2 separate regions of the Homo sapiens genome follow, and region 2 is linked to region 1. Evidence: fine-mapped expression QTL. A gene starts in region 1. The other region holds a variant in brackets. All regions are shown on one strand. Distances are between the middles of the regions.

What was found. PIP is the estimated chance that this variant, and not a neighbour inherited with it, causes the effect.
Region 2: its variant is the best candidate, but not a certain one, in a credible set for the expression of ERC1 in lymphoblastoid cells (GEUVADIS, PIP 0.67).

The regions. Positions count from the first base shown.
Region 1 is chr12:989,347-993,736 of GRCh38, forward strand. It overlaps ERC1 (ELKS/RAB6-interacting/CAST family member 1), which reads left to right and starts at 1,877. Exons shown (of 19, transcript NM_178040.4): 1 at 1,877-1,976. It also overlaps a transcript of RAD52 not described here. RefSeq lists enhancers at 708-1,270, 1,832-2,393 and silencers at 1,092-1,141, 1,552-1,661, 1,682-2,191, 2,397-2,691.
Region 2 is chr12:1,227,997-1,232,386 of GRCh38, forward strand. All of the region lies in intron 12 of ERC1 (ELKS/RAB6-interacting/CAST family member 1), which reads left to right. Among named protein-coding and RNA genes, the nearest start is that of ERC1, 240 kb to the left of the region's middle. The variant A/G (reference allele first, on the strand shown) is at 2,224.

The DNA.
Region 1 (4,390 bases):
ATGTCAAATAAAAAAAAATTATCTTCCGATGTCCCCCTTCTCATTTTCTATTTTGTATCACTTTTATTTATCATCATTTTATGGGGTCTCAGGAAGAAGAGACAGTAAATACATGTGCTCGGTTAGCTAGCTTTAATCAAAAATCCTAAACGTAGGTTTTAAAAAAGATAACTGGAGCAGGGCAGGAAATAATATTTTTTGCCAGTGTGGTGGCAAAAAATAAAAAACAAAAATCTGAATCTGTGTTAGGACAGTATTTCCGTGTATAACATAGCGCTTAGCAACTTAATTCTCCAGATCCACATATTTTAAGGACATGATGTATCTCAGACACCTACTTCAAACCTCACTTTACAGTTAAGTAAGACCACAAGTAGAATGAATTGCCTGAGGCCACACAAGTAGACAGTGGGAGAATGAGAACAGAAATATCTATTGACTCCTAGTTGAATTTTCTCTTACCTTACCACACTGCTAGGGAGTAACAAGATGGGCAGATCACGAGTCAGATGAGAAAGGTCATGAAAAATAGTCAAAGGATGACTTTTCCTGGGTAAATAGCCGGATGTCCAAGAAATGAAAGGCTGGTCTGGCAGCAGCACATCGTCTAACAGTTGGTAGTCATATGTGGGAAGTACTGAAGGGGGAGATGACAGCAGGCCCAGAAACTGCAATGATCCAAGTGCATGTCGATCCTGGGAGGGAACAGTTAAGAGTCCGGGCAGGATGAAACAGTAGAAACTGGTGAGTGAATGAATGTGAAGGCTGAGGAGCGACTGCAATTTGTTAATGGGATTATGAGGCAGTATAAAGTGGTTAATTACGGTGGCGGAGGTAAGCAGGAGTAAAATGATGGCTTTTAACTCCTCTCAAGGACACCGAAAATTATTTTAATAAACACTGGAAGGCTGGGAATAAATATAATTCACACCATTCTTACTTTCTTGGTTTAGAGATAGCTTATCTACATCCTTAAATTAATGGCTGTAGCTACCCTCTGCATGGCTCCAAAAAAAAAACAAAAAACAAAAAACAAAACCAAAGCCGGCTGCGAGTCTGCACGAGAAAATCGGGTTGCACCAGGCCCCAGCCGCCCGCCGATTCGCTTAGCTGTCGGAGGCTAAATAAACAGCTCCCGAAGCAGCGTTTGGCACAGCGCAGGGTCGGAACGTGGACACTAATTTCCGCCCACGCTCCCCGCGTCCTGGCGGGATCACCACAGACACGACGTCCATTGCTGGGGTCCTCGGCGATGCCCGTGTGCGCAGCCCCGCGAGTCTCAGGTCAGAAGACCACTAATTTCGCGGCCGCGTTCCACGAAGCTAAGGGGCAAAAAACCAGCTTTCTTGGGACAAAGCGTCCCCCCAGCAGCCAGGGTCGATCCCGGCGCTGCTCCCGCGGCGCTTGGCTGCCCCGGGCGTAACGGGCCACGAGAAGTAGGGGGTGGGGCGCCGCTTAGGTTTGGGAAGACACGAAGCGGCTCCTCGGGCTTCCAGCGTCCACTTCCTACGGCAAGCAGGAGGAGACAAGCGCCACCCTGCGCTCGCGGAGCCGACCCCGGCTCTCCCCTCCCGTGGCCGCAGGGGTCGTGTGTGTGTGTGTGTGAGTGTGTGTGTGTGTGCAGGGACGCTCCGCGCCCATCACTCTGTTTCGGTGCTAATCGACCGCCGTGGCGCCGATTTCCCCCGCTTCCCAGTTCCTCACCCGCGTGCCCCGGAAGGCGCCCGGAGGCCCCCGGGCCGCCGCGTCACGCTCCCGGGAGGCTGAGGGAAAGGGAGGCAGCCGAGCCGGGAGCCCGGGGAGGCGCGCTGCGCCCCGCGGCGGGGCTGGGGGCGGGGCTAGGTGTCTCGCGCAGGGGGCGGGGCGCGGTGACGTCGCGGGCGCCTGGGCCGTGCTGTGGCGGCGGCGGCGGCGGTAGTGGCGGCGGCGGCGGTGCCTGGGCGGCAGCAGCAGCAGTAGCGGCAGCCCTGAGGACGGTGAGACGGCCGCGGCGGCGGCGACAGCGCGGAAGTCGCGCGGGACCCAGAGCTTCCCCCCTGTCGCTAGTGCTGAGGCTTTCGCCTTTCCTACCCAGCTTCTTGCTCACGGCCCGGGCTGGGCTGGGCAGGGCAACGCGCCCCCGGGGAGGGGCGGAGCTGTAGGTGAGGCTTCGCGACCCCCTCCCCCTCCTCGGCAGCCCGGGGGGTGGGGAGGGGCGGGCCCCACCCAGACCACCGGCGCCCACCCGCGGGCTCCACCCAGCCGGGCTCCGGGATCGGGCGGGAGCCGAGGCGGTAGATGTGGGGATCCTGGGGCGGGAGGTGGGGGAGTGGGGACTGGGGCTCTGGGCACTTGGGGAGCGGAGGGGGGGAGGCTTAGGACTAGTGAAGCCGCGGACGAGGTAGTGGGGAGACGGAGAAATTGGGGAGCCATGAGGTTGGGGTGCGGTCAGGGTGGATCTTTGGGTTAGGTGAGTGATGTAAAATGCTGAAGATGATTCTTTTCTTTTCGATGAAATGGTGAGATAAAAGATGAAGTGTATTTCAAAAGGACGATGAGCTGTGCATGTTGCCTTTGAGGCAGTTGCAGAACCTATTTTATTGCACTAGATCTCACGTTTCTACTTTAGGGTTCGATTCTTTTTCTTCTGGCGGGGTGGGTGGGGGGTCGGAGAGGGAAGAGAATCCCCTTACTTTGGCTCAGGTAAATTGTGAGCGTGGATGTATCTGAAAGTTTTACACCGAAGAAGAGGGAGATCTTCGGTTTAGACAACTTCGTTCCGGCAGCCACCATTTGGGTCGCATTACGCTTAGCTCCTTCAAGGTGGTGTCTTCCAGTTTTTTTTCCCCCCAATGCCTAAAAGATCTCTTTATACCACCCTTTTACAGGCTTTATCCTGGCCCCTTGAGAGAAGGCCCCAAACTCAGGTGGTTGCTTTGGAAGGCACATTGCTGAATAATAGTTGCAGGTGGTTGTGGTTGACTGCTTTGGGTGGATAAAGTGAACAATTGGAATAGTTCTGTTGGAGCTAATTATATGAAAAATGCTTAAATGTTTTAAAGTACAACCGTCTTTTATAGCGTGTTGCTTGCTCAGTACACCTTGACTTTTAGACATTTTGTGTTCAGTGCTAAATTGTTGAAATTTTATTTCTCATTTGCAGTTATGTTTCTTGCAGTCTTTATTAAAACACTTTAAAATGAAATGGAACTCTTTTTTTTTGGTAGGCTCCTCAATTTCTGAGAAATGTTCTTGGAGTCAAGTGCTTTAAAAACATTTTGGGGGCAGGTGTGTCACTTTGTATGGAAATATTAGAGTAAGCAGTGTTCAATGTTCTTCACATCACTCTTTCACAACTTAGCACTGTAAATCAGAATCTTCTTTTCTGGATTCTTGCTCCCTGTTAGATTACAGTATTCTCTGGCCCTACTTATCAGTTAGTGTCATTTAAGCTATTTCTTGTTCAGAAAACAGGTCCCATGATGGACATGTATTATGTAATGGATGGAAGTAGACATGGCTCTCAATAATTCATTTATGGAGGAAGAGAAGCTGTCAGAAAGTGGGATTTAAGCAGTGACTTTCCCAAGGCTTGCCTAGTTTATTTGGGAAAATAGCCAGAGAAGTGCTTTCTTGTAACCCAAAAGAGAAATATACAGATAAGAATTTCAGTAGTTGCAGATCGTTGCTTTTTCTAAGTGCCTACTTAATGAGCAGATTATTGTCTTCCAGCAAATACTTCTACTTTATAGAGAGGTATGGGAAACAGGACATAATAGGTATTAAGTGAGAAAGTGTGTGTTCCAATTTTTAATTATAAATAAAAGATTTAATTAACTGTATTCAGTTAATTCATTTGGTAAAGTGAACAGTTTTGACTTTGGATTAGTTAGAAGGAAAACAAAATTGACATATCTAGTTTTCGCTTTTAAATTATACATAGACTTAATTAATTGGGACAAATGTGAACTAAGATACTGGGTAAAACTTGTGTGTACTCCTAAAATGACATTTGCATGGCTGGTAGTAAGCTGTGATTCTTGTCCTTGTAGGAATGAAATCACATAATTTGGGGAAAGTCTTAAGGTAAAAGTAAGCTATTTCGTTTAGCATTTCTTGTGCCTGAAATTATGCCTACATTTTATTTTTCAAAAAATGTTGCTTGCTAGTCATTACTTGTGATATCCTTGTTGAGTCTACTGAGGTGTTTTTTTTCCTTCATTACCTGTGTCATAGATAAGTATGCCAGTCTGTTAATTCAACATTAATACTGCAAACTTAAAAGTGAAGGTTCTTGGCCGGGCGCCGTGGCTCATGCCTGTAATCCCAGCACTTTGGGAGGCCGAGGCAGGCGGATCATGAGGTCAGGAGTTCGAGACTAGCCTGGCCAACATGGTGAAACCCTGTCTCT
Region 2 (4,390 bases), 240 kb after region 1:
GTTCCATTGGTATAGATGTCTGTTTTCATGCTGGTACCATAGTGTTTAGATTTGTAACATAGTTTGAAATCCGAAAGTGTGATGACTCCAGCTTTGTTCTTCTTACTCACAATTGGCTATTCACGGTCTTTTATGGTTCCATACGAAGTTTAGGATTCTTTTTTCTGTTTTTGTGAAACAATGCCATTGGTATTTTGATAGAGGCTGCATTGAATCCATAGATTGCTTTGAGTAGTATGGACATTTTAACAACATTAATTGTTTCAATTCATGAACAGATTATCTTTCCATTTGTATGTATCTTTTTCAATTCCTTTGTCTTCTAGTTTTTAGTGTACAAATCTTTCAGCCAGTTGTATACAAAAATATACAACTAATTTTTGTATATTTTATATTCTGCAACTTTACTGAACTTACTATAATAGTTTTTAACAATTTTTTTATGCAGGCTTTAGGGTTTTCTATGTATGAGGTCATGTCATTTGCAAATAGAGACAGTTTATCTTGTATTTTCCAGTTTGTGTGCCATTTAGTTCTTTTTCTTGCCTAATTGACTAGGACTTCGAATATTCTGTTGAAGAGGTGGTGAGAGTGGACTCCCTTTTCTTGTTCCTGATGTTAGGGGAAAAGCTTTCAACTTTTCACCGTTAGATTTATCGGCTGTGGGCTAATCATATATGGCCTTTATTGTTGTGTTGAGGTACATTCCTTCTTTACCTAATTTATTGAGAGTCTTTATCATGAAAGGATATTTAATTTTGTCAAATACTTTTTCAGATGATTGTGTGATTTTTATCGTTCATTCTGTTAGTGTGGTGTATGACGTTTATTAATTTGTGTATTTTGAACTATCCTTGCAAATAACCACTTGATTATAGTGAATGGTCCTTTTAATGTGCTGTTGAATTCAGTTTCCTAGTATTTTGTTGAAAGTTTTGCGTCTAGTTTCATCAGTACTATTGACCTGTAATTTTCTTTTCTTATAGTATCCTTATCTGGCCTTGGTATAAGGGCAATACTGGCCTTTTAAAATGAGTTTGGAAGTGTTCCTGCCTCTTTAATTCTTTGGATGAATTTGAGAAGAATTGGTACTAGCTTGTGCTTAAGTGTTTGGTGGAAATCAGCTATGAAGCCATCTGGTCCTCAGCTTTTCTTTGTTGGGAGGTTTTTGACTACTGCTTTAGTCTTCTTTCTTGTTATTGGTCTGTTCAGCTATTAATATGTCTTCACTTGTCCAGGTACAGTGTGTAATCCCAGCATTTTGGGAGGCCAAGGTGGGAGGATCACTTGAGACCAGGAGTTGGAGACCAAACTGGGTAACATAGCAAGACTGGTCTCTACAAAAAAATAAAAAATTAACTAGTTGCAGCGGTGCATGCCTGTGGTTGCAGCAACTTGAGAGGCTGAGGCAGGAGGATCCTTTGACCCCAGAATTTTGATGAACTATGATGGTGTCACTGTGCCCCAGCCTGGACAACAAAGCAAGAATGAATCTCTTTTAAAAAAAAAGTCTTCAATTTTGTTGTTGTTGTTGTTTTAATGATTCAGTCTTTAGGGTATATGTTTCTAGAAATTTATTCATTTCTTCTAGGTTATCCAAGTTGTTGGTGTATTAATTTTCATAATATTCTCCTTGTACTCCTGTGGATCAGTTGTAATGTCTTCTCTTTCATGTCTGATTTTCTTTATTTGAATTCTCTTTCTCAGTTATTCTAGCTCAAAGCTTGTCAATTTTGATTATCTTTTGACAAACAACTATTATGTTGATTTTTTAGAATTTTCTTTCTGGTCTCCCATTTATTTCTTTATTATTTCCTTACTTTAGCTAACTTTGGGCTTAGGTTGTTCTTTTTTCTATTTTTTTGAGGTGTAAGGTTAAGTTGTTTGAGATCTTTATTTTCTTAAAGTTTATTGCCATAAACTTGTCTCTTTGAACTGCTTTGCTGTATTCTGTAGGTTTTAGAATGCTGTGTTTTCATTTTATTTGCCTGAAGATACTTTTTGACTCTTTTTTTTTTTTTTTTTTTTGAGTTGGAGTCTCACTGTGTCACCCAGGCTAGAGTGCAATGGCACAATCTTGGCTCACTGCAACCACCGCCTCCCGGGTTCAAGCGATTCTCCTGCCTCAGCCTCCTGAGTAGCTGGGATTACAGGCATGTGCCACCACGCCTGGCTAATTCTTAATACAGATGGGGTTTCACCATGTTGGCCAGGCTAGTCTCA[A/G]ACCCCTGACCTCAAGTGATCCGCCCACCTCAGTCTCCCAAAGTGCTGGGATTAAAGGCGTGAGCCACCGCGCTTGGCCTGACTTTTTGACTCTCCTTTTGATTTCTTCTTTGACCCATTGGTTTTGTCAGGAGTATATTGTTTACTTTCCATGTATTTGTGAATTTTTAAATTTCCCTCCTATTATTGATTTCTAATTTTATACCATTGTAGTTGAAAAACATGCTTGATATGATTTTAACATAGTTGGATTTAACACTTAATTTTGTGGCCTAACATATGTTATATTCTGGGGAATGCTCTATGTGTACTTGAGAAGGATATGTTTTCTGCTGCTGTTGGATGGATGTTTCATATAGTCTGTTATTTGCTCTATACTCTTATTCAGGTCTAATGTTTTCTTATTGACAGACTGTTTGACCTATCCATTGTTAAAAGTGGGGTAGTAAAGTCCTCTCTTGTTATTGTATTGCTGTCTGTTTCTCCCTTCAGTTCTGTTAGTATTTGCTTTATATTTTTAGGTGCTCTAAGGTTGGATGCATATATATTAATACATTTACAATTGTAATATTCTCTTGATGAATTGACCCATTTATTGTTGTATAATAACCTTGTCTCTTGTGACTGAAAGTCTATTGTGTCTGATATAAGTAAGCCCATTTCTATTCTTTTTTGGTTACCATTTCCATGGAATATCTTTTTCTATCCTTTTGTTTTCAGCCTGTGTGTGTCCTTACAGCTAAAGTGAGTCTCTTGTAGCCAACATATTGTTGGATACTTAAAAAAGTCTGTTAGCCACTCTGTATCTTTTGATTGGAGAATTTAATCCATTTAAAGTAATTATTGATAGTTAAGGCCATTTTGTTGTTCTCTGTTTTGTAGGTCCTTTGTTCCTTTCTCTCTTGCTGCCTTCCTTTCTGATTTGATTTTTTTTTTTGTAATTGTATGCTTAATTCCTTTCTATCTTTTATATGTTACTGGAGGTTAGTTTTCTTTGTGGTTACTATGAGGGTTACATAAGATATCTTAGGCTGTTTTAAGGTTGTAATAACTAAACTTTAATTACCTACAAAAATTCTGCAATTTTATGTCTCCCTCCTTCACAGTTTATGCTATTGATGTCACACTTTACATCTTTTTATATTTGTGTACCCATTGACAAATTATTGTAGCTATAGTTATTTTTATACTTTTGTCTTTTAACTTTTATGCTAGTTAAAATTGATTTATGTACCACGATTACAGCATTGCAGTATTCTGAATTTGACTGTATATTTATTTTTACCAGTGAGTTTTATACTTTAATGTGTTTTCATGTTTTTATTTAGTGTCCTTTAGTTTCAACTCAGCTCCCTTTAGCATTTCTTATAAGGCAGGTCTAGTGCGATGAACTCTGTCAGCTTTTGTTTGTCTGGAAATGTCTTTATCTCATCTTTATTTCTGAAGAACAACTTTTTTTTTTTTTCCCTCTGATGGCACCTCTGACTCCTTGATATTGTATTATTTGTTTCTCAGAGAAGTAAAGCAATTTTTTTTTTGAGACGGAGTCTCGCTCTGTTGCCCAGGCAGGAGTGCAGTGGCATGTTCTTGGCTCACTGCAATCTCTGCCTCCCGGGTTCTAGCGATTCTCCTGCCTCCGCCTCCCAAGTAGCTGGGACTACAGGCGCCCGCCACCACGCCCAGCTAATTTTTGTATTTTTAGTAGAGATGGGGTTTCACTGTGTTAGCCAGGATAGTCTTCGATCTCCTGACCTCATGATCCACCCACCTCAGCCTCCTAAAGTGCTGGGATTACAGGCATGAACCACTGTGCCCAGCAACAACTTTCTTATGTATAATATTCTTGGCTGGCAGTTTTTGTCTATTAGCACTTTGACTATATCATCTCATTCCCTCCTGATCTGCAAGGTTTCTGCTGAGAAATCCACTGATTGCCTTGGTGGTGGTGGTAATGGTGGTGTGTATGTGTGTTGCGGGTTTCCTTGTATTATAGGTTGCTTTTCTCCTGCTGCTTTCAAAATTTCCTCTTTGCCTTTGATTTTTCAGAATTCAATTATAATGTGTTTCAGTGTAATTTTCTTTGACTTGAGCTTTTGAGCTTCATGAATCTAGATGTCTGTATTTCTTTCAAGATTTGAGAGATTCTCAGGCAACAGACATTCATTTA